7 linked regions of the Homo sapiens genome follow. The protein of the gene in region 1 purifies or fractionates together with the protein of each later gene. This does not show direct contact. Each region holds a gene or a part of one and is shown in the gene's direction. Other genes may lie near its edges. The genes, in order: CAV3, AP1S2, MAP7D3, SBDS, REEP2, ENDOD1 and ANKRD13C.

The links.
Region 2: the proteins of CAV3 (region 1) and AP1S2 purify together in Homo sapiens (affinity purification with mass spectrometry; 2 studies listed by BioGRID and IntAct, with this or other methods). This does not show direct contact.
Region 3: the proteins of CAV3 (region 1) and MAP7D3 purify together in Homo sapiens (affinity purification with mass spectrometry; 2 studies listed by BioGRID and IntAct, with this or other methods). This does not show direct contact.
Region 4: the proteins of CAV3 (region 1) and SBDS purify together in Homo sapiens (affinity purification with mass spectrometry; 2 studies listed by BioGRID and IntAct, with this or other methods). This does not show direct contact.
Region 5: the proteins of CAV3 (region 1) and REEP2 purify together in Homo sapiens (affinity purification with mass spectrometry; 2 studies listed by BioGRID and IntAct, with this or other methods). This does not show direct contact.
Region 6: the proteins of CAV3 (region 1) and ENDOD1 purify together in Homo sapiens (affinity purification with mass spectrometry; 2 studies listed by BioGRID and IntAct, with this or other methods). This does not show direct contact.
Region 7: the proteins of CAV3 (region 1) and ANKRD13C purify together in Homo sapiens (affinity purification with mass spectrometry; 2 studies listed by BioGRID and IntAct, with this or other methods). This does not show direct contact.

Annotation. Positions count from the first base shown.
Region 1 is NC_000003.12:8,743,802-8,747,258, forward strand, and holds the end of CAV3 (caveolin-3), read left to right. Parts: intron 1-1,724; coding exon 1,725-2,066; 3' UTR 2,067-2,957; downstream 2,958-3,457. UniProt on the Homo sapiens protein: May act as a scaffolding protein within caveolar membranes. Interacts directly with G-protein alpha subunits and can functionally regulate their activity. May also regulate voltage-gated potassium channels.
Region 2 is NC_000023.11:15,844,814-15,848,313, reverse strand, and holds part of AP1S2 (AP-1 complex subunit sigma-2), read left to right. Parts: intron 1-2,302; coding exon 2,303-2,411; intron 2,412-2,797; coding exon 2,798-2,935; intron 2,936-3,500. UniProt on the Homo sapiens protein: Subunit of clathrin-associated adaptor protein complex 1 that plays a role in protein sorting in the late-Golgi/trans-Golgi network (TGN) and/or endosomes.
Region 3 is NC_000023.11:136,227,401-136,230,900, reverse strand, and holds part of MAP7D3 (MAP7 domain-containing protein 3), read left to right. Parts: coding exon 1-62; intron 63-307; coding exon 308-516; intron 517-2,142; coding exon 2,143-2,278; intron 2,279-3,469; coding exon 3,470-3,500. UniProt on the Homo sapiens protein: Promotes the assembly and stability of microtubules.
Region 4 is NC_000007.14:66,987,180-66,989,883, reverse strand, and holds the end of SBDS (ribosome maturation protein SBDS), read left to right. Parts: intron 1-1,384; coding exon 1,385-1,513; 3' UTR 1,514-2,204; downstream 2,205-2,704. UniProt on the Homo sapiens protein: Required for the assembly of mature ribosomes and ribosome biogenesis.
Region 5 is NC_000005.10:138,442,057-138,444,760, forward strand, and holds part of REEP2 (receptor expression-enhancing protein 2), read left to right. Parts: intron 1-2,358; coding exon 2,359-2,479; intron 2,480-2,697; coding exon 2,698-2,704. UniProt on the Homo sapiens protein: Required for endoplasmic reticulum (ER) network formation, shaping and remodeling. May enhance the cell surface expression of odorant receptors.
Region 6 is NC_000011.10:95,096,346-95,099,845, forward strand, and holds part of ENDOD1 (endonuclease domain-containing 1 protein precursor), read left to right. Parts: intron 1-3,500. UniProt on the Homo sapiens protein: May act as a DNase and a RNase. Plays a role in the modulation of innate immune signaling through the cGAS-STING pathway by interacting with RNF26.
Region 7 is NC_000001.11:70,278,223-70,281,722, reverse strand, and holds part of ANKRD13C (ankyrin repeat domain-containing protein 13C), read left to right. Parts: intron 1-3,500. UniProt on the Homo sapiens protein: Acts as a molecular chaperone for G protein-coupled receptors, regulating their biogenesis and exit from the ER.

The DNA of each region.
Region 1 (3,457 bases):
GAAAATATTGTACTGGAAAGAAATGCACCAAAACAATCATATCTTTAGTAATAGAGAAGTACAAACCCAAGACTCTTTTCTTTTTTCTATTCTGTTAATTCTCTGTGATATGGCCATTTTTTTTATAATGAAAGTAATTTTAATATTGGTGATGCAATAGAGGAGAGGATCCCCTCCCCATAACCAAGGCGGGAAAGGGACTAACTAACCAGGAAGATTGAAGTTGGAGCCTCAGCCCTGCAGGCCACCACACAGGCCCCTCCTGTTGATCTGATTAGTCTGTACCTGCATCCACCCCCTTTTAATTTGAATGGCCCAGGAGCACTGCTAGAAAGAAAACATCTCAGAACAGTTTCAGGCATTAGCAAACAGCTCTGCAACCTCCCACTTGGCGGGCTGTACTGGTAACAACCATGGGGAGACCAGTCATGAAGCAGCTAATTTGGTTCACTGCTGTTTAATTGACCAGTGGAATTTTTTTTTTTTTTTTTTTTTGAGATGGAGTCTCGCTCTGTCACCCAGGCTGGAGTGCAGTGGCACAATCTCGGCTCACTGCAAGCCCCGCCTCCCGGGTTTATGCCGTTCTCCTTCCTCAGCCTCCCAAGTAGCTGGGACTACAGACACCCGCTGCCATACCCGGCTAATTTTTTTTTTTTTTTTTTTTTTTTGTATTTTTAGTAGAGACAGGGTTTCACTGTGGACCAGTGGATTTTACAGCCTCCCATCCTTTCATCCTCATGATACCACTGGAAGACGTTCATTGACTCCATCTTACAGACAAGACAGCTGAGGCTTAGTGATGCTAAGTGACATCACCCATGTGTAGGCAGCTAGGAAGGTGCTTCATGCATAGCAGGGCTCGAGAGAGCTTAGGTAAGCGATGTGAGGAACCTCTGCCTGTTCACCATCCAATCCACAGGTGCTCAGTAAATTGCTGTAGGATGCATACGACCGTCCAACACCCTTCAGATCATAAAACAATAGAATTTGAGAGCTGCGACTATAGCACTGCCACTAAGTCACTGTTGGCTTTAAGCAAGTCGCTCACCTTGAGGGGGTTGAACGAGCGTGTTGTGTTGGTCAGCGGTGCCTAGGAACAGCAGCAGCTTGGGCTCAACAGGGAGCTTGTTAGAAATACAGAGCCTTAGGCCCCACTCCAGACTTGGGGAGTCGGAATCCCTGGGGCGATGATATGGTCTGGATCTGTGTCCCCTCTAAACCTCATGGTGAAACATAATCTCCAATATTGGAGGTGGGGCCGGGTGGGAGGTGATCGGATCACAGAGGCAGATCCCTCGTGGCTTAGTGCTGTCCTCACAATAGTGGGAGAGTTCTCATAAGATCTGGTTGTTGTAAAGTGTGGCACTCCACCCCCTGCCCAGCTCTCTCTCTTGCTCCCACTCTCACCAGGGGAGACGCCTGCTCTCCCTTCTCTAGCCATGGTTGAAAGCTCCCTGCGGCCTCACCTGAAGCCAAGCAGATGCCAGCACCATGATTCCTGCACAGATCACAGACCCATGGGCCAATTAAACCTCCTTTCTTTATCAATTACCCAGCCTCAGGTATGTCTTTAAAGCAATGCAAGAATAGCCTAATACAGGTAGGGTCCAGCCACCAAGGTTAACCTGACCTCTAGGGGATTCTGACACATGCACGCACACACCCAAAAGCTTGAGAAGCGGGTGGCTTCTGTGAGTTGAGGCTTCCCCTTGCCACCCCTGCAGGTGGATTTTGAAGACGTGATCGCAGAGCCTGTGGGCACCTACAGCTTTGACGGCGTGTGGAAGGTGAGCTACACCACCTTCACTGTCTCCAAGTACTGGTGCTACCGTCTGTTGTCCACGCTGCTGGGCGTCCCACTGGCCCTGCTCTGGGGCTTCCTGTTCGCCTGCATCTCCTTCTGCCACATCTGGGCGGTGGTGCCATGCATTAAGAGCTACCTGATCGAGATCCAGTGCATCAGCCACATCTACTCACTCTGCATCCGCACCTTCTGCAACCCACTCTTCGCGGCCCTGGGCCAGGTCTGCAGCAGCATCAAGGTGGTGCTGCGGAAGGAGGTCTAAAGCCAGGTGGGGCAACAGCGGTGGCAGGGCAGGGGGTGGTGGGCCAGACTGGTCCCCGGGGGACTTCTTCACAGGGGCTGCTGGCGAGCTCTTTCTCTTTAGGGACTGCTCCATACCCCATGATGGAGCACACGGTGTAGGGAAGCCAGAAAGAAAAGACGGCCCAGCCACAGAAGCACAATGGCCCTTCGCTCTCCCCCAGCCCCACCATGATGCCCCCATGCCTGGGCGTGGGGGAAGATCATTTGCCAAGAGGCAGCTACTGCAAGTCTTTGCGTTCACTTGTACTGTAACAACATAAACCAGCACGCGGTTCCCACCCGGGGCCAACCTCTCCACGCGCACTCAGGAAAGTGACCAGTGACCACTGGCGTTAGGAAGGTGGCTCCAGTAAAGGGTTTTGGCTGCATTTGGGGAATGCTGCATTTTGTTCGTGCCTGTAAGATTGGTTTGTGTCCTGACCAGCTCCAAAAATATACTTCACTGCCCTGAAAAACAGACACAGGGAGAGTTGGTTGTCTCTTCACTTGGCCAAATGTAAGTGAAGAACAGAGTCTTTTTCTTCTTCGGATTCTATTGTTTGCTGGAACCGTACACGTTCCTTGGAAGATCATGTTTAAGTGACTCCTGTTGCCTGAGCACAAAAATGGGCACCAATGGAGGAAAATGACCCTTGGGCTGGCAGGGGCAGTGACCCTTCCAGGGTACCACTGAGGGAAGGGCCTGGGTTCAAGCCTCCCGGAACCTCCCCTTTGGCTAACCGAGCCCCTGAAATGCCCAGTACTGCCATTTGACATGAGGGTACCTTCGCCCTCAGGAGATGTGACGAAGGAACAAGGTCTAATTTGTGCGTGTGTGGACTCACTATGGAAATAAAATGCAGTAGAAAGAGCATGTATCACTTCCTCCCTCCTCACACTCTCTCTCTCTCTCACACACACACACACACACAGTGCCCTTATCTTCTTTAGGGCTGTCTTTTCCGAGTGTGCTATCCAGAACTTAGCCATTAAAAAAGAAAGGATGGGGATGGGTGTTAGCATCTGTGGTCCGGTTCTTTCAGAAATGCTGTATATTTCTCTCAGAGATTTTCAATAGACTTTGGCACATTAAAGGCTCTGACATGTCCTGCAGTAGATAAACCTGTTTAAACCAGTATCCCCCCAATCCTATCTGACCTTTTTTTTTTCTTTTTTTCTTTTCATGCAACGCCCATTTAAGTCTCATATAATTAAAGTTCCACAGCACTTGTCAGGTTTTCGGAGACATTATTCATGCCTGGCCACGAGCCCAGTGGTCTTGGGAGGCAGTGTGGTGAAGTGGACCACACACAGCTTGGGAACTAGGACGCAGGCAGCCTTGGTTCTAGTCCTGCTTCCGCTCCTAGTTGC
Region 2 (3,500 bases), on another chromosome or scaffold:
GTAAAATATGCAAAAGCCTTAGCTAACATTTAATGTCTCATGTAGGGCGAGGATTCAGTGAATGGTACTTAATTATTATGTTTCTGTTTTTTTCCTGCCCTAAGCTTTCTGGAAAGAGGTACATTATTATCCTGATAGCTATCTGTTCACCTACACCAAAGAATTCATTAATTTGATTATTCTTTTTCCATTCCGAGTGAAAGTAAACATTACTGGCTGGGGCTTAGACACATTGTTTCTGATGATTTTTAAATTAATGCTTCCAAGTGATTCATGCAGTTTAGGACCTTTGACTAGTGTTTAAGTGCTTTTTATTTGTAAGTAAAGAGGCAGTACTGTGGATAAGGAGCGAGGATGGTACGAGCATTAGCTTGTTTAATAGTAGCATGAGGAAATCTTAAATAAAAGGAATTTTACTTGAAACTGTTAGTAAACTTTGTATAATAAATTATTTAGCATTCTGTTCCTATCAGCTAGTCATATCTGGTTTTTAATCTACCATTTTTATGTCAGTCCCTTTAATGTTTAGTTTTCTTAAATCAGGGAATCTTATGTGTCATTTATCAGTTTCCTCAAATTCAAAGTTCTATTTAATGAGCATGGGTTAGGGAGGATGGAGAGTTGGAATACTCTATTCTCTTTTAAATAGACAAACAAAAACAGTAACGATGGGAAAGAGAGGGAGCACTTTGTTAAAGTTGGCATTGATGCCCTGTTTTGTCTTCCATGACTTATTCCCTTCACAATGATGATAAATGAACACATGTGAATACCTCCTCTCAATAAGACTGCAGTAGCTCCACCATTTTAAATAACTTACTGAGTGTGGAAGTCAGGTAGAGTAGACATGCACAAACTCATGATATATATGCCAAGTGAGTTTGTATGATACAGTGGAAAAAGGCCTGGAGTTAAGGTCAAAAGATCAGGTTTCTTATCCCAGTACTAGCACTTGTAGGCGCTGTACTCTTAAGCCTCATTTTTTTTTTGTCTTTTTTTAATCTGTGATCAAGGATGAAAGATAGTACTTGCTGTTGAAAACATCAAATAAGATGAAATGGTTTTAATAATGAAATTAATGCTGTTGTGTGAATACTAGTTATTTTCATACTAAGGAGCAAGAATTCATTGAGTCTCAAAACAGGTTGTGTTATTCTGTATACAGTATTATTTTACATTAATGCTACGAGCAGTAACTGCCCATTGTGTTTTCTAAAAATCATTTAAGTGATCTTCAGTGAAAATTATAATCTCCACTGAAATGTTCTGTGTTTAGCCTATCTTAGGTTTTTATTTTCTTTCTTTTCAAAAGCCTTAAGTACATGTAAACCATTTTAAAATGCCCTTTTAATCCTCCTCAAAGGACTTGCTATGCCTCAGGGTTGAAGTTTTGCTTCCTTGGGTCAAGCATAACATGATTCCATATGCTAGAATCCTAATTTGAAGGAGAATATAAGTTTCCCAACCTTATTCCCTCTTCTAGGGTAAATAAACTACACTTCAGTTCAACAGTGTAGAACTTGGTAAATTTGAGAACAGGCCTCTGTTTCCCTTAAGTGATAGGAACTTTCTGTTCTCTTTCTCTAACTTCTGTAATAACGTGGAGCTGTTGTTCTTTTCGTATGGTTTATTCTGCAATCCTAGAAACCTTTTTAAAAACAATTCTATTCTGTTAGAAGTCAAGAGCATAGTTACCCTTGGGGGTGGGAGGTTGTGACTGGGAGAGGGTAGCAGAGGAGTTTCAGGGTTCAGTAGTGTTCAGCTTCTTGATGTGGGTGCTGATATATAGTTGAGTTCACTTTGAAAATTTATTGAGCTTGTAGGACTTAAGGTCTTCTCTGTGTATATATTATACATATTCCAATAAAATATCCCAAAATATTGACCTCACCTTGGCATTATCCTCAACAAGTCCTCCTTCAGTTGGAAGGTTTGTTTTCTTCTCTGTACTTACAGTTTGAATTAATCTGCTATATATTTTGTTTTAATTAAGTAAACTTAGGAAAAACCTGGGTCTGCTATGTTTTAAAATGCTTATAGAAAAGAACCTGAAAGGAAGAAGGGCAAAATCACTTATTCTAAGTGGTATGATTATTTTGATTTTTTCTTTATACTTGCCTATGCTTTTCAAAATTTCTGTTATGCGTTTATTACTTTTGTAGTCTATGAGAAAAATCTGTACTGTCGTGAAAGAAGAAATAAACTGTATAAACTTGGGGCTTTTCATAATAGGATATGAAAATATATTTAGAAAACATCATTATAGGATAACAGTTTTTTTCACATTTGTACTTTGTTACAGATATGCTAGTCTGTATTTTTGCTGTGCTATTGAGGATCAGGACAATGAACTAATTACCCTGGAAATAATTCATCGTTATGTGGAATTACTTGACAAGTATTTCGGCAGTGTGAGTAGTATTTTATTTTAGGAAATTGAATGCCATAGTATATTTTGGAACCTTTTCTCTAACAAGTTTATTTTTTGGTTGTCTTGGGGATTCTAACCGCGGGAGAGGGTGGGAATGACTATTTATTAGTAGAAATTATTAAGTTGTCCATATTGGGAACATGCAGAGCCCAGTCTTATTTAGCTTGTAGGAATATGTTTTCAAGTACTTGAGATTTGGAAATTAAGCTTACTTAAACCAGTGATACTTAGTCATTTTTAGAAAGAGTTAAGATTGATTCACTCTAGTTCGATTTTATTCACTACCTGATAGTGAATAAGCATCTTCTGCTTCTGCAAGTTTTAACAATTTTTTCTTTTCTTTTTTCTTTTTTTTTTCCTTTTCAGGTCTGTGAACTAGATATCATCTTTAATTTTGAGAAGGCTTATTTTATTTTGGATGAGTTTCTTTTGGGAGGGGAAGTTCAGGAAACATCCAAGAAAAATGTCCTTAAAGCAATTGAGCAGGCTGATCTACTGCAGGAGGTAAGCTACTTATTCTCTTCACTAGGCACTAGCATGTTTTGCTCTTGCTGGGGAAGTCTCATTCATCATTCTTACAGTTTCAGAAAGTACTCTGAAGCATGCTTGTCATGTAGTGTCCATCCATGTGCAGTTTATTGACTGGAATATGTGTCAGTCACGTCAACTCAGTTATCTATGGATGGATGGTTCAGTTTGGAGATGGTCTATCGGTCAGGCCTCTTCCCAATGGCCCTTTTTGGACCCTAAAACACTGGAGTCTAAACCTTTAGAGGACAGACTATTTGAAGAAGGGAAAAGATTGGCTGAAAGTAGCAGTAAGTTGAGAACTCTCCATCTATTGCTTCAAATTGTTTAAGATAACCCCCTTTTTCATTAGTGTAGATAATCAGGAGTTGACTATGAGATTATGACATTTTAATTCCAAATTGGCTCATATTTTTACCTCATGTCCATTAAATGCAAAAGTAGCCAAGCAAATGATAGTGTTTTCTAATTATACTTTTTGTAGAAACTTCCAGGTTTTTTTTGTTAGCAAAACTAAACAGTATTTGCATTTCTCTTTGCT
Region 3 (3,500 bases), on another chromosome or scaffold:
TGTTATAAATGGTCATCATCTCCTGAAAATGCTTGTGGTCTGCCGTCTCCCATCAGCACTAAGTAAGCAGCTTATTCGCAACTGTTCCTGATAGGCGTTTTACTAGAACAAATTCCATGTCAATGTTTGATGAGTGAAATAATATAGTATGCATGGTAACACAAATGTAAAGGGAAAAAAGCCTGTAAAAAGGGATTTATTTTTCAGAAAAATTCCCTGATTATAATGTCATCTCATAATAGCATCTTATATTTTATGAAATTGTACACTGAAAATTAATTAGCAAATGTGTATTACTTTTTCTCAGCAGGCAAATCCAAAAGAACTGCCCTCCATCACCATTACCACTTATTTCAAAACAGTCACCACAGACTTCTTTTCCTTATAAAATAATGCCTATTCAACACACCCTGTCTGTGCAAAGTGCATCAAGTACTGTCAAAAAGAAAAAAGAAACAGTTTCTAAAACCACTAACAGATGTGAGGCTTTGAGCCAAAGGCATATGATCTATGAAGGTAAGTTCTTTCACTAAGAAGTTTATCTTAGCAACACAGAAAATCTTACTGTATTCTGGGAAAGGTTCACTTCATTTTATTCCCCAATTGAGAGAACTTTAGGGAATTATTTTCCTTTTAGAAAGAGAGAATCTAACCAATCTCTGGTACATTGGAATGTATCTTCTCTGTTTGTTTGTCCTTGCCAAAGCTTTCTTCTCACCCCTTTGTTTTGAAAAATCCATTTTTGGAACTGCTTTTAAAAGCATAGGTCTGGCCAAGCATGGTAGCTCACGCCTATAATCCCAGCACTTTGGGAGGCTGAGGTGAGAGGATTGCTTGAGCCAAGGAGTTTGAGACCAGCCCAGGCAACATAGGAGAGAGACCCCTGTTTCTACAAAAAAAAAAAAAATATATATATATATATATATATATATATATACACACACAAAAAAAAAAATTAGCCCGATGTGGAAAGGGTAGGCTATATATTCGGTTAGGGGGTTGAGGATAAGAGTAAGCCATATTATACCATAACCACCTAGCTTAAGGTGGTACACATCTGTAGTCCCAGCTAGTAGGGAGGCTGAGGTAGGAGGATTGCCTGAGACCAGGAGGTGGAGGCTGCAGTGAGCCGTGATAGTGCCTTTACACTCTAGTCTGGATGAGAGAGCGAGACCCCATATCAAAAAAAAGCACAGGTCGGATGAGAGGTTTGGTCTAGGTGATTCCTGAGATCCCTTCTAGCTCTGATAGTGATGGTTCTTGGAGAGAGCACATCCACTCGTGGATGAGCAGGTTTTTCCTAAGATTTAGGTTCGTTTTTATATATAGGCCATAATGTGGTGTCCCTTGATTTGTGTAGTATTCCTGAAAGTGCCATATTGCTATTTTGCCTGTTACGTGCATTCTTAATACCCATGGACATTACTTAATTTCAAAAACACACTGGGGAATTTTGCTCTTTTACGGAATTCCACAGTGAATTTTTTGTAACAGAAACAATCTTTTAATTACAGATTATTCATTCCTGATATGTCTTCTCATTTTCATATGATTTATTTAAAATAAATTAGTAGTTATATAGACCAAAATATCATCATATGCCTCTGTGTACTCACCTTATTTTACTGATAGTCTTGGTTTTGTTATCTACAGTTAGCTACTCTATGATCAACCAAATGTATACACTATTATCAAGGTTTAGCTAAATAGTAATCATATAGTAAAAATGATGCACAGATCTCAAATGTATACCAGATACATATTTGTTTGAGTATTTAAGATATTTGTACCCTTTGTTTGGACCGAGCATAAGCTTGTCTTCCTCTATATTCAGTATTTCTTACTCTTTTCCCATGGGGTCAGTTGATTCAGTTATCTCAAAACCACTAAAACGAAAGTAGAAGTACATTATTTCATTTTGGAACAAGTAGGTGTTAAAAAGAAACAAAATGCTTCTGCTGTTGTTGGGGGTGCAGTTTGAACAAAATCTGTTAGATAATCACCTATAGTTTGCTTGTGATTTATAAATTTTGGACTACGCACATATATATATATTTTAATGTTTTGGATTGTGTTGCACTTCTTTGTTGGAGTGAGAGTTGATTAGCTCTCTTAACTGTTGCACATATTTATTTAAACTAGAGTCTGGTAATAAGAGTACTGCAGGTATTATGAATGCCGAGGCGGCAACAAAAATTTTGACAGAATTGCGCCGCCTTGCTCGTGAACAAAGAGAAAAAGAGGAAGAAGAAAGACAACGGGAAGAAATGCAGCAAAGGTCAGCACAAAGTCTTCCTTCCTATACTATAAATCTTGAGTGGGGCCCAAATTTTTGAAAGTCAAAATTTTACCCTCAAGTTATAAATTCTCAAAGAACAATTGACTTTCTTCAGTGAGGATCAGAAGTGCCTCATTGCCTGCATAGGAAGCATTTCAAGCCCTTGTAAATGGCTAAGGACCCTGGTATGTGGATAAATGGCACAGTCCTTTTTAGCCTCCATACATCATGTGCCATTAAGGTGTGCTAGGAGGATGCACAGAGACCAAACTCACATTCAGGATTTGATCTCTCAGCACCAGAGTGGTATATAAGAACAGATCAGTTCGTGTTCACTAGTGTCAGCCCTTTATTTAAAAGACTTGTAACATCAGGATTTTTAAACCTGAAAATTATACTTACTCATGTTTTACTTTTTCTGTGATCTTTGTGACACCTGTGTCTCATCAGGCCAGTGAGTCATTGCTAGAAGGATTTCCTTTGTGGGCAGCAAATCTCATGTACAGTTGTGTGCATTCAAATTCTAGCAAAGGTTTCTTGTTCCTCCATCTTGAGGACTATTTTATGTCGGGCCTTATAATGTAAACCTCTGTCCACTGGCTGCAGGGAATAACAACAGTACTGAATTTGCTTTTAAGTATTTAGTGTTATTTGAAATAATCACACATTTTCCATATGCTTATATGGGCTTGGGAAAAAGAAGGGAATATTATGAATTACAAAAAAAACCTCTAACTTGAAGAATATTATTCATCGCTTCATATAAACAGAGCTGATTTAGCATTTGAAAGTGCTGAATACTAGGGAACCACCAGACTCTCCTCTAAATTATCTCTGTTACCCCCACGAGAGATTGGGTGTGAGCACGTGTAAAGAAGGCCTTTTAGGGGATGTCATGTCTCAAAGACAGTTAAGGAATGAGTTCCTCTCACGTATGTGTGTTTTTTAACAAGCAAAGTAATCTATTACTTGATTGAAATATTTTTCTGCTCCCGAGGGCTAGTTTTTCTCTTTAAAAAGGGGTGGAATTGTGTAATTCCTATATAGTAACAACACAGAAGATGTAGTGACTCTGGTGTGGATATAAATTATATTACTATACACAGGAAGTTTCACTATAAAAACTCACTAGTGCAAGCTGAGTATGATAGCAATCAAGATAAATACTAACAATTATTTAAATACTCTCAGGGTCATTAAGAAATCAAAAGACATGGCAAAG
Region 4 (2,704 bases), on another chromosome or scaffold:
TTTGAAAATTAAAAATGGTTTAAAGAGATGAGTCTGGGTGCCAAGTTGATAAGGGGTGGAATTGTGGATGTAATTTTAGGTGTCAACTTGACTGGAAAGGAATCCCTAGAAGCCTGATAAAGCATTGTTTGGGGTATGTCTGTGAGGGTGTTTCCAGAGGATATTAGTGTGTGAACCTGGTGACACTAAACACAGAACATTTTAAAGAAGCAGCGAAACCATTATGTCCTTATGACCTCACCCCACAGCTTCAAACACAGTGTAAATTGAGCTGTCTACAAATTCATGTTTTCAAGGCTTTGCAGCTTATTTATTTATTTATTTATTTATTTATTTTTGAGACAGGGTTTCACTCTTATTGCCCAAGCTAGAGTGCAATGGCGTGATCTCAGCTCACTGCAACCTCTGCCTCCCGGGTTCAAGCGATTCTCCTGCCTCAGCCTCCCGAGTAGCTGGGATTACAGGCATGTGCCACCTCGCCCAGCTAATTTTGTATTTTTAGTAGAGACGGGGTCTCTCCATGTTGGTCAGGCTGGTCTCGAACTCCCGACCTCAGGTGATCCACCCGCCTCGGCCTCCCAAAGTGCTGGGATTACAGGCTTGAGCCACCGCGCCCTGTCTGCAGCTTCTTTTTAAAAGTAAATGAGCTGTAGAGAAGTGTTGAGTATGTGAGTATCCACTGTAGATGTGAACTAACTCATCTGACACTACTTGAAGTTCTAAAATCTTTGCAAAACTGTACACATGGGCCAGGCACAGTGGCTCGTGCCTGTAATCCCAGCACTTTGGGAGGCCAAGGTGAGCAGATAACATGGTGAAACCCTATCTCTACTAAAAATACAAAAAATAAGCCAGGTGTGGTGGTGGGTTCCTGTAATCCCAGTTTCTTGGGAGGCTGAGGCAGGAGAATCACTTGAACCTGGGAGGCGGAGGCTGCAGTGAGCCAAGATCACACCACTGCACTCTATCTCAAAAAAAAATAAATTAACATACACATGGTGTCTACATAAGTCTTCACATTGCTTTTTCTCCTTCATACGTGGAGGTGACTTTACTGAGCTATAAAATGTAATGCTAAATTTTAGTATGAGAAGAATCAGAGTTTTCTAGTTTGTCCCTTCCATTTACAGCTGAAGAATCAGAATAAGTGTTTAAACATAGGGATTAATGCCTTGTCACAGGGGGCTACATGGACACTTGAGGGCAGAGGCTAAACTGGAACCCAGTGTGCCGCCCTACCCATTGTCTTATCTATTGCACCATAGAACTGTGGTATTATTAGAGATCTGGACAGCATTGTGCTTGCCTCAAAGGAAGTTAAAGCTGAGTTTATTCTGTGTCTTGCTCATCCTCATGTGGTAATCTGCTACGTTAAATGTTTCAGGTATGTCTGATTGACCCGGGCTGCTTCCGAGAAATTGATGAGCTAATAAAAAAGGAAACTAAAGGCAAAGGTTCTTTGGAAGTACTCAATCTGAAAGATGTAGAAGAAGGAGATGAGAAATTTGAATGACACCCATCAATCTCTTCACCTCTAAAACACTAAAGTGTTTCCGTTTCCGACGGCACTGTTTCATGTCTGTGGTCTGCCAAATACTTGCTTAAACTATTTGACATTTTCTATCTTTGTGTTAACAGTGGACACAGCAAGGCTTTCCTACATAAGTATAATAATGTGGGAATGATTTGGTTTTAATTATAAACTGGGGTCTAAATCCTAAAGCAAAATTGAAACTCCAAGATGCAAAGTCCAGAGTGGCATTTTGCTACTCTGTCTCATGCCTTGATAGCTTTCCAAAATGAAAGTTACTTGAGGCAGCTCTTGTGGGTGAAAAGTTATTTGTACAGTAGAGTAAGATTATTAGGGGTATGTCTATACAACAAAAGGGGGGGTCTTTCCTAAAAAAGAAAACATATGATGCTTCATTTCTACTTAATGGAACTTGTGTTCTGAGGGTCATTATGGTATCGTAATGTAAAGCTTGGATGATGTTCCTGATTATCTGAGAAACAGATATAGAAAAATTGTGCCGGACTTACCTTTCATTGAACATGCTGCCATAACTTAGATTATTCTTGGTTAAAAAATAAAAGTCACTTATTTCTAATTCTTAAAGTTTATAATATATATTAATATAGCTAAAATTGTATGTAATCAATAAAACCACTCTTATGTTTATTAAACTATGGCTTGTGTTTCTAGACAACTTCCTAACTCCCTTTCTTTTCTCTGCCTGTGTCTGTGGTAGGGTTAGGGAGTTGTCAGGAGAACTGAATAAGTCCATATGAAGAGTGCTTAGAACAGGGCCTGTACTTGTAAACACCTGAAAAATTTTTGCTAACACTTGGGATGTAATTGGGAAGAATTATTTTAGTATTTAAACACTTAAATGGACAAGATGCAAGCTTTTAAAAATCTACTTCAAGGCCAGGGGAGGTGACTCACACCTGCAATCCCAACACTTTGGGAGGCCGAGGCAGGCGGATCACCTGAGGTCAGGAGTTTGAGACCAGCCTGACCCACATGGTGAAACCCTGTCTCTACTAAAAATACAAAAATTAGCCAGGCATGGTGGTGCACGCCTGTAGTCCCAGCTACTCGGGAGGCTGAAGCAGGAGAATCACTTGAACCCAGGAGGCAGAGGTTGCAATGAGCTGAGAATGTGCCACTGCACTCCAGTCTAGGTGACAGAGTGAAACTCGG
Region 5 (2,704 bases), on another chromosome or scaffold:
CACAGCTCTCGAGGCCTCAGTTTCCTTATTTGTAAAATAGGCATATGATTCACTCCTATAAATGCTGGATACTTGCATTTCCAAGGCATTTTCCAGGCTGTACTAGACTACGTATGTATGAGCACTTTGAGGACAGGGAATATGTCTTAATCATCTGTATATTCACAGCAGGAACTCAAAAATGTTTACTGAATGATCAGATACCTCTTGGAAGAGGGGACTAATAACACAGTTCATCGGAACTCAAGAAGAGAATTTTACCAAGGGGGAGAGGACAAGAGATCATTACATTTATAGATAAGACCCTTGCATTTGAGAAAAATAGTTTTAGAAGAGGAAAGAGATGGAGAGATGGGTTAAAAATTGAGGGTAAAGGCCGGGTGTGGTGGCTCACGCCTGTAATCCCAGCACTTTGGGAGGCCAAGGCAGGCAGATCACGAGGTCAGGAGATCGAGACCATCCTGGCCAACACGGTGAAACCCCGTCTCTACTAAAAATACAAAAATTAGCTAGGCATGGCAGGGCGCAGTGGCTCACACCTGTAATCCCAGCACTTTGGGAGGCCGAGGTGGGCGGATCATGAAGTCAGGAGATGGAGAGCATCCTGTCCAATACGGTGAAACCCCATCTCTACTAAAAAACAAAACACAAAAAATTAGCCGGGCGTGGTGGCGGGTGTCTGTAGTCCCAGCTACTCTGGAGGCTGAGGCAGGAGAACGGTGTGAACCCAGGAGGCGGAGCTTGCAGTGAGTCGAGATCGAGCCACTGCACTCCAGTCTGGGCAACAGGGTGAGATTCTGTCTCAAAAAAAAAAAAAAAAATAGCTAGGTATTATGGCACCTACTTGTAATCCCAGCTACTTGGGAGGCTGAGACAGGAGAATCGCTTGAACCCAGGAGGCGGAGGTTGCCGTGAGCCGAGATCGTGCCACTGCACTCCAGCCTGGCAACAGAGCAAGACTCAGTCTCAAAAAAAAAAAAATTGAGGGTAAAGGCCGGGCATGGTGGCTCCTGCTTGTAATCCTGGCACTTTGGGAAGCCAAGGCAGGAGGATCACTTGAGCCTAGGAGTTTGAGATCAGCCTGGGCAACATAGCAAGACCTGCCTATTAAAAAAAAAATTGGCCAGGTGCGGTGGCTCATGCCCATAATCACAGCACTTTGGGAGGCCAAGGGGGGGCAGATCACCTGAGGTCAGGAGTTCGAGACCAGCCTGACCAACATGGTGAAACCCCTTATCTACTAAAAATACAAAATTAGCCGGGCGTGGTGGCACATGCCTGTAATCCCAACTACTCAGGAGGCTGAGGCAGAAGAATTGCTTGAACCCAGGAGGCAGAGGTTGCAGTGAGCCAAGATTGTGCCATTGCACTCCGGCCTGGGCAACAAGAACGAGACTCTGTCTCAAAAAAAAAAAAAAAAAAAAGATGAGAGTAGGGCAAGGGTGGTGAGGTGAAAAACAAAACTGAGGGTAGTAAATATAGATGCCTTTTTTTTCTTTTTCTGAGATAGAATCTCACTCTGTCATTCAGGTTGGAGTGCAGTGGTGTGATCTCGGCTCACTGCAGCCTCTACCTCCTGGGCTCAAGTGATCCTCCCACCTCAACCTCCTGAGTAGCTGGGACCACAGGCACACGCCACCACACCTGGCTTATTTTTTATTTTTTGTAGAGATGGGGTTTTGCTGTGTTGTCAGGCTGGTCTTGAACTCCTGGGCTCAGATGATCCTCCCACCTTGGCTCCCAAAGTGCTGGGAGATTACAGGCCACTGTGCCAGGCCTATACATGTGTCTTGACACAGCAAAAGAGAGAGCTTTGATGAAGACTTTGTGAGGACATAGGTGACCTGAAGGAGTTTGTGACCAGAGGAGAAGGCACTATGGGGACTGAAGGGCAATCCTGGAGAAGTGAGGGTCGTGTCACGGTGGGGCAGGAGGGTCCAGAGCAAGCTAGAGAAGTCCCAGGCCTCTCGATGATAGGGAGGGCAGAAAGGGAAGGAGTGAAGACCCAGGTGTAGGCCTGCACAGTCAAGAGTTTCCCTTGGTGTTGACCCTAGGGCAGAGGAAGGGGGGTTTTCTCTAGGAGTGAGAGGGCTGGGGCTTGGGGAGAGGATGAGGCCAGGAGAGTCGCTGCTGGGGGAAATTCCTTCTAGTGTCACTGCTTACCTTCCTGTTTGGAGCTTCAGCTGAGCCCTCCAGACCCTTTCAGATTAGAAAGGAGCAGTCCCATGAGCCCCATGGGGACCCCAGTGCACTAAGAGTGAGGGGCTGTGCAGGGTCACACATGGGGCCGGTGCTGCTGGACACAGGGCACCTCCCAACTCCCTGCCCTGTACTCTGCGCTTGCCCCTGTCCCAACAGGTTCCCCTTCTACTTTGAACTGAAGATCGCCTTCGTGATATGGCTGCTGTCCCCTTACACCAAGGGCTCCAGCGTGCTCTACCGCAAGTTCGTGCACCCAACGCTGTCCAACAAGGAGAAGGTTTGCCCCCACTCTCAGCTCACCTCCCAGCCTGCCCCCAGCCAAGGCAGTCCAGAGCCTGCAGCCTCATACAGACTGGCCCTCCCTGTGGGGCCCAGAGCCCAAAGTGACTTGGCAGGGCTGCCGTGGCCTCCCGGAGCAGGCAGGGGCCTCTGTCCAGGGGTGAACAAGGGTAGGGCAGGACCTCTCCTCTTCTCCCTTCCCCTCCAATCCCATAGGAGATCG
Region 6 (3,500 bases), on another chromosome or scaffold:
CATTGCCTGTCGATATATCTATTTGGCCACTGAAAGGAAGGAGAAATGAAAAAGAAACTGACTCATAGGCTGAACCAAGAATAGAAGCACCGTTTAATATTCCAGTCATGCTTCATTGACCTAGTGCTGAACAGAAGTGTGGCTCAATCAAAAGGTCAAACAGAGGGTAGTTTATATTTTTAATCAAAGCTGAAAATACGGGTACATTTTACTTTGTAGAATAAACAGATGGCTGAAATATTATTTGAAAATATAAATGTAATTACATGTTTCAGTTGACTTATACTTTAAGGGCTGATTGGTCTTCAGTTTTTATTGACTTCCAGTTGGCAGGGACACCTAATGCTTTAAGAAAGCCCTGAGCCCTCTGTCAATTCATTTTAGTCAACAAATCTTTATTGAGCATCTGCTATGTGTGAGGCACTATTCTAAGTCCTGGAAAGAGAGCAGTGGTTACAGACAAAAATACCTACTCTCATAGGGTTTATATCTAATAGAGAATATAGATTATAAAATAAATAAATAAAAGACAAGGTGCCAAGCATGGTGGCTCATGCCTGTAATCCCACTACTTTGGGAGGCCAAGGCGGTCTGATCATTTGAGCCTAAGAGTTCGAGACCAGCCTGGGCAACATGGCAAAAACCCATCTCTACAAAAATTAGCGAGGAGTGCTGGCATGCACCTGTAGTCCCAACTACTCATGGAGGCTAAGGTGGGAGGATCATTTGGGCCTGGGAGGTAGAGGCTGTGGTGAGCTGAGATCATGCCACTGCACTCCAGTCTGGGGGACAGAGTAAGACCCTGTTTCAAAAAAAAAAAAAAGGCATATTAGACAGTGATAAGTGTTAAGGAGAAAAAGCAAGGAAGGAGGCTATGAGATATCAAGGAAAAGGTGAAGTTTAAAACAAGGTTTCCATCCAGGGAAGAGATCACTGAGGAGTTGACTTTTGGGTATAGACATGAAAGAAGTAAGAAAGCCAATTATGCAGGCATCTATAGAGGGGGAAAACGTTCTGGGTAAAGGGAATGGTAATTGCAAAGGCCTGGAGGCATGAGTGTGTTGAGGAAGAACTAAGAGGCTGGTTTGGCTAGAGAAGAGTAAATGAGAGTAGCAGGAGATGAGGTCAGAGAAGTGGGGAAGGAGACGGCAGATCATTTAGATTCTTCTGAGCTATTTGTAAAATATTGGGGTTTTACTGTGTGTGAAGTGGGAAGCAATTGTGCAGGGTTCTGAGCAGAGAGCTTCGATGTGATCTGGCTTACATTTAAATAGGACCATTTTGGCTGCTGCATTGAGAATAGACATGTGGTGTTAAGGGCAGAAGCAAAGAAACCAGTTAGGAGGTTTCAGTGATCTGACAAGACAGTAGTATCTTGGATCAAGATGATAGCACTGTATATTCTGGATATATTGTGAAGAAAGAGCTCATAGTCTTTGGAGTGAGAGAAAGGGAAGAGATGACTCCAAGGGTTTGGGCCTGAATAATCAGAAGAATGGAGTTGTCATGAATAAGACAAGGATACAAAAGGAGGGGCTGTTTGGGGGCCATATCAAGAACTCGCTTTTGTTCATAAGAGCAAGAATATAATACTGGTTGAGTATCCCTAATCTGAAATGCTTGGGACCAGAAGTGTTTCAGTTTGAAGATTTTTTTTTGGATTTTGGAATTAGTGGCTGAACCTCCCAAATCTGGAAATCTGAAATCTGAAATGCTTTAATGAGCATTTCCTTTGAATGTCATGTCAGTACTCAAAAAGCTTTGGATTTTGGAACATATTGGATTTTGGATTTTCAGATCTGAGATGCTCAACCTATAGTGGCTACCAGGGGCTGAGGGGTGGGGAAGATGAGGAGCTCTTGTTTAATGGGTATAAAGTTTCAGTTACATGGGATAAATCAGTTCTAGAGATCTGCTGTACAATGTAATGCCTATAGTTGATGATATTGTATTGTGCACTTCAAAATTTGTTAAGAGAGTAGATTTCATATTAAGTTTTCTTAATACGCACACAAAACAAACAAAAGGACACAAGGAAAGTATGGGAGGTGTTGGACATGTCTCCCTCCTTGGTTGTTGTGATTGTATCATGGGTATTTGCATACATCCAAACCCAGCACATTAATTATGTGATGGGTTATTACATATTTATTGCACATTTAATTCATCACATTAAATATGTACAATTCTTTGTATATCAGTTATACTTTGATACAGCTGTAGGAGGAAAAGGTACTCCGTTTTGGGCACTCTGAGTGCGAGATACCTTCAGGTATTCAATTGACCTTCAAGTAAGTACAGTCTAGAGCTCATTGGATGCTTATCATATGGCAGGAGGCACTTTTCTAGTGTTTTTTTTTTCACATGTAATTTCATGTAATCCTCAGCATCGTCAGAAATAGGTACTATTATTATCCTTCTTAGAGGAGGAAACAGGCCCAGAGAGGTTAAACTACTATTGCATTTTTACACAGCTAAGAAGAGGTGGGGCTCGGGTTTGAACCTGAGCTGTCTGACACCAGAGCACACATGGACTGCTTCTGTTGCAAACCTGTTGATGTGTTGGGTGAGCTCCTATTGAATGCTCTTGAATGAAGTTTATCTTTTAAAAGTTCACATGTTCATTTACCAGGATTTTATAGAGGGTGTGTTTCTAGCTCTGGCAGTCACACGCCCATGAATATCAGAGGCTCACCACCTCCAGGTGTACCTTTGTGGCTATAGGAAGGGTGGGGTTATTGCAAGTACTCCATTGGGCCGAGGGTGCTCTGCCCCCTTGTACAGTCTTGTTCTATACTGATCCATCTTGAGCTCTTCCTATTATCCTTATGCAAGCAGACATTTTCCATAAGGCACCAGGTTAGAGCTGGGAAAAATGGATCACCCAAAAACTGTGTTAACTCTGTTGAGCAACAGATTTTGTCCCCTGCATCTCAGTGAGTAGCGGAGATAAGAGGGTAGGGGATAGAGTCTTGCATCTCTGGGCGTATGGAGACATTGCTGCCAGACAGGCTGTTGGATTGGATGTGGTGCATGAGCCTGAGGAGAGCCCATCTCCTGTCTCAATGCCAGCTGTCCCTAGGGGTGGGAAGGAGGTGCCCAGGCCGACTACACCCTCCAGAGCTCCGCTCCTTGAGCAGAGGTGGCAGACCCACACATCCATCATCCAGCCCTAGTCTGTTCAGGAGCTCCTTCTCTGCAGCCAGCTTGGCTCCCAGGAAGGAAGACCAGCAGAACACTTAAACTTAATAACCCAGTAATGCAGTAAGTCCTACTTTGGGACAAGAGGAGGGACTTTGCTCTAACTCAGAACGTATACCTCCTTGAACGTGCCAAAATTCCTTTTTCCTTTATGACTGTTTAGTAAGTTAAAGTCCTTCATCTTTGCAGGTTCTTGCATTTGTCCCTATACCGACTTTATCACAGCTTGGTAAATGTGCCTTCCCTCTATGTTTGTGAGATGGCAGCACTGGTTTCAGGAAATCTGCTTGCTGTTATCT
Region 7 (3,500 bases), on another chromosome or scaffold:
TCCATTGGTTAGAATTTAACCCGGGCATGGTGACTCATGCCTGTAATCCCAGCACTTTGGGAGGCCAAGGTGGGAGGATTGCTTGAGCTCAGGAGTTCAAGACCAGCCTGGGCAACATAGTGAGACTCTGTCTCTACAAAAAAAAAGTAAAAACAAGCTGAACATGGTGGCATGCATCTGTAGTCCCAGCTCCTCAGGAGGCTGGGGTGGGAGGATCACTTGAGTCCAGGAGGTCATGGCTGCAGTTTGGTGTGATTGAGTTACTGCACTCCAGTGTAGGTGACAGAGCAAGACCCTGTCTCAAAAAAAAAAAAAAAAAAAAAAAAGAATTTAGTCACATGATAACACCTAGCTGCAAGGATTTCTAGAAAAGGAGTCTATTCTAGGAAGTCATGTGCTCATCCAAAAATTTGGAAGAGAGGTTCTTTCACAAAGACTAATGGGAGAACAGATACTGGGGAGACAACTAGCAATCTCTGACATCTCATCAGTGAGTACATAAACACTGGTAACTGTCAACCAGATATATACCTTTAACTCTATTCTTCCGTCATATCACCACATCTATAGTGCTTTTGCCTACCTCTACTTGGATAAACATAGATGTCTAAAATTTAGTGTGTCTAAATCAGATAATGCTTTCTTCCCTCCTTCCTCTTTTCTCTGTCTTAGGTAGTAACACCATTATCTCCTTATTTACCCCAGCTGGCAACCTGAAATTTCTTCTTAGACTTCTTAGCTTTCCTGTTATCTCTATATCTGATCAATCACAAAATCCTAAGGATCTCTTGAGTCTATTTAGTCTATTTTCTGTCCTTCCATTTTTAAACAACATGCCCTTATCATTTCTCATTTGGATTACTGAGATAGCTTCCTAAATACACTGCCACCAGAGTAATCACCCTGAAATAGATTGAATCATGTAATGGCTATGCTCAGTAACTAAAATGTATACAGTACTTGCTATGCGTGAGGCACTATTTTAAGCACTTTACATTTAACAGCCCATTTTTATCATCACAGTAAACCCTCTGAGGTTATATAGTTGACAGAACTGAGGCAAAAGAGGTTGAGTAATTTGTTTGAAGTCAGCTAGTCATTGTCGAAGCCAGAATTGGATCACTCTGGCTCCACAGTTGGTGTTTTAGCTACTATATTGTATTGCTCAAAATATTTGTCCATTGCTTCCTGAGTAAAATGTGATCTACTTCATATGTAAAACCCTTTCAGGCTACTTTTTCTCTTCTGTGTCTGGCCACTTTTCTCTTACTACTAATCTTCATGTATACTACTCATACAACTAGACACACTACACTTGCAATTTCCCAGTATGTCATGCTTTCTCTCACCATTCTGCTTTCCCCAGTTCCTTCAACCAGTTCTTTTGTTCTTTTTTAGACTCCTCAATTCAGGAGTCAACCAGTCCACGTCTTTTGGCTACCCTAGTCTGTCATAAACCTCTTCTGTGCATGTTTATATCATTCTGTAGCCCCTGTCACCCTCAATTATATCATAGCCCCTGTCACCCTCAATTATAAGTATTTACTTTTTGTGTCTCTTGATAAGCTTCTCAAGGAAAGAACATTGTCTTTCATCTTGCCTGATACTAAAAAACTCTGTTTCCTTTCTTTCCACATCCCTCGGCTGCTACTCAGAGATCATCAATGACTTCTAACCAACAAAATTTATGGCTTTTTCAGGCTTCTTTCTCTTCAAAGTCTCTGTAGTGTGATATTGAAACAGTCTTTTCTTTTGGCCTCCATTATACCATAAGGGAAACTAAACTTTACCTCTTCCAAACTTAGTTCTTAGTTGAGATGGACTCTCGTACCAAAAGACAGATTTATAAGGGAAAAGCAAACAAGTTTATTAATGCGTGCCGCACACCACACAAGAAACCCCAAGGAAAAGTAACTCAAGGGCTGATCACAGTGGCTTATGCCTGTAATCCCAGCACTTTGGGAGGCTGAGTTGGGCAGATCACTTGAGGCCAGGAGTTTGAGACCAGCCCAGCCAACATGGTGAAACCCCATCTCTATTAAAAATACAAAAATTAGCTGGGCTTGATGATGCACACCTGTAATCCCAACTCAGGAGGCTGAGGCAGAAATATTGCTTGAACCTGGGAGGCGGAGGTTGCAGTGAACCGAGATTGTGCCACTGCACTCCAGCCTGGGTAACAGAGCAAGACTATGTCTCAAAAAAAAAAAAAAAAAAAAAAAGTAGCTCAAAATAGTGGCTTAGAACTCTACTTATATAGCATCTTCAACAAAGAACAATAAATTTATAGAGAAATGACAGGACAAATGAAAGTGATTTTAGGTTTCCAAGGACAGGAAAGGAGTAAGGTTTGTTTGCAAATTCCTCTGGTGCTGTCACTGGGCTAGTAAGAGTATAGAGTTATCTCCAGTGAAGCAAAATTTATACTCTGTAGTTCGGCAGAAAACGGAGGGTAGAGAAAAAGCTTTTCCTCCATTTACTGCTTCCCTCTCTCTCTCTCTTTTTTAATTTCTTTTGAGACAGAGTCATGTTCTGTCCTGTAGGCCGGAGTGCAGTGGCATGATCTCGGCTCACTGCAGCCTCCATGTCCTGGGCTCAAGGAATCCTCCCACCTTGGCCCTTCAAGTAGCTGGGACCACAGATGTGTGCCACCATGCCTGGCTACTTTTTTTTTTTGTATTTTTTGTAGAGATGGGGTTTTGCCATGCTGCCCAGGCTAGTCTCAAACTCCTGAGCTCAAGGGATCAACCTGCCTTGGCCTCCCAAAGTGCCAGGATTATAGGCATGAGGCACCACACCTGACCTGCACTAAGTTTTTTATATACGTTATCTCCATTAATTTTTAACTATGAGTTAGTGGCCCAATTCCCATTTTGCAAGTGAGTTAAGTTGACATAATAGAAAGTAACTTGCCCAAATTCACACAACTACCAGGTATTGGAGCTGGGATTCTAACTCAATTTTGTGTCTTAGCAATCCTTGATTTTAACAACTCTAATATATGGCTCATTAACATCTTACACTAATTATATGTAAAACCACATTTCTTGAATGAGACCCTCTCAATGTTATTAACATCTTATTATTCATATTAGTCTTTCACTTATTGTCTTTTTGCTCCATAGTCCTGTTAGGTTTTCATTAGCAATTGAAAAAAAATTTTTTTTTAATTTATGAGGTTTTTGTTTTGTTTTGTTTTCTTGAGACATAGAGTCGCTCTGTTTCCCAGGCTGGAGTGCAGTGGTGTGATCTTGGGTCATGGAGTGCAGTGGTGTGATCTCAGGTCACTGCAATCTCTGCCTCCTGGGTTCAGGTGATTCTCCTGCCTCAGCTTCCTGAGTGGCTAGGATTACAGGTGCGAGCCACTACGCCTGGCTAATTTTTGTATTTTTAGTAGAGATGGGGTTTCACCATATAGGCCAGGCTGGTCTTGAACCCCTCACCTCAAGTGATCCACCTGCCTTGACCTCCCGAAGTGCTAGGATTACAGGCATGAGCCA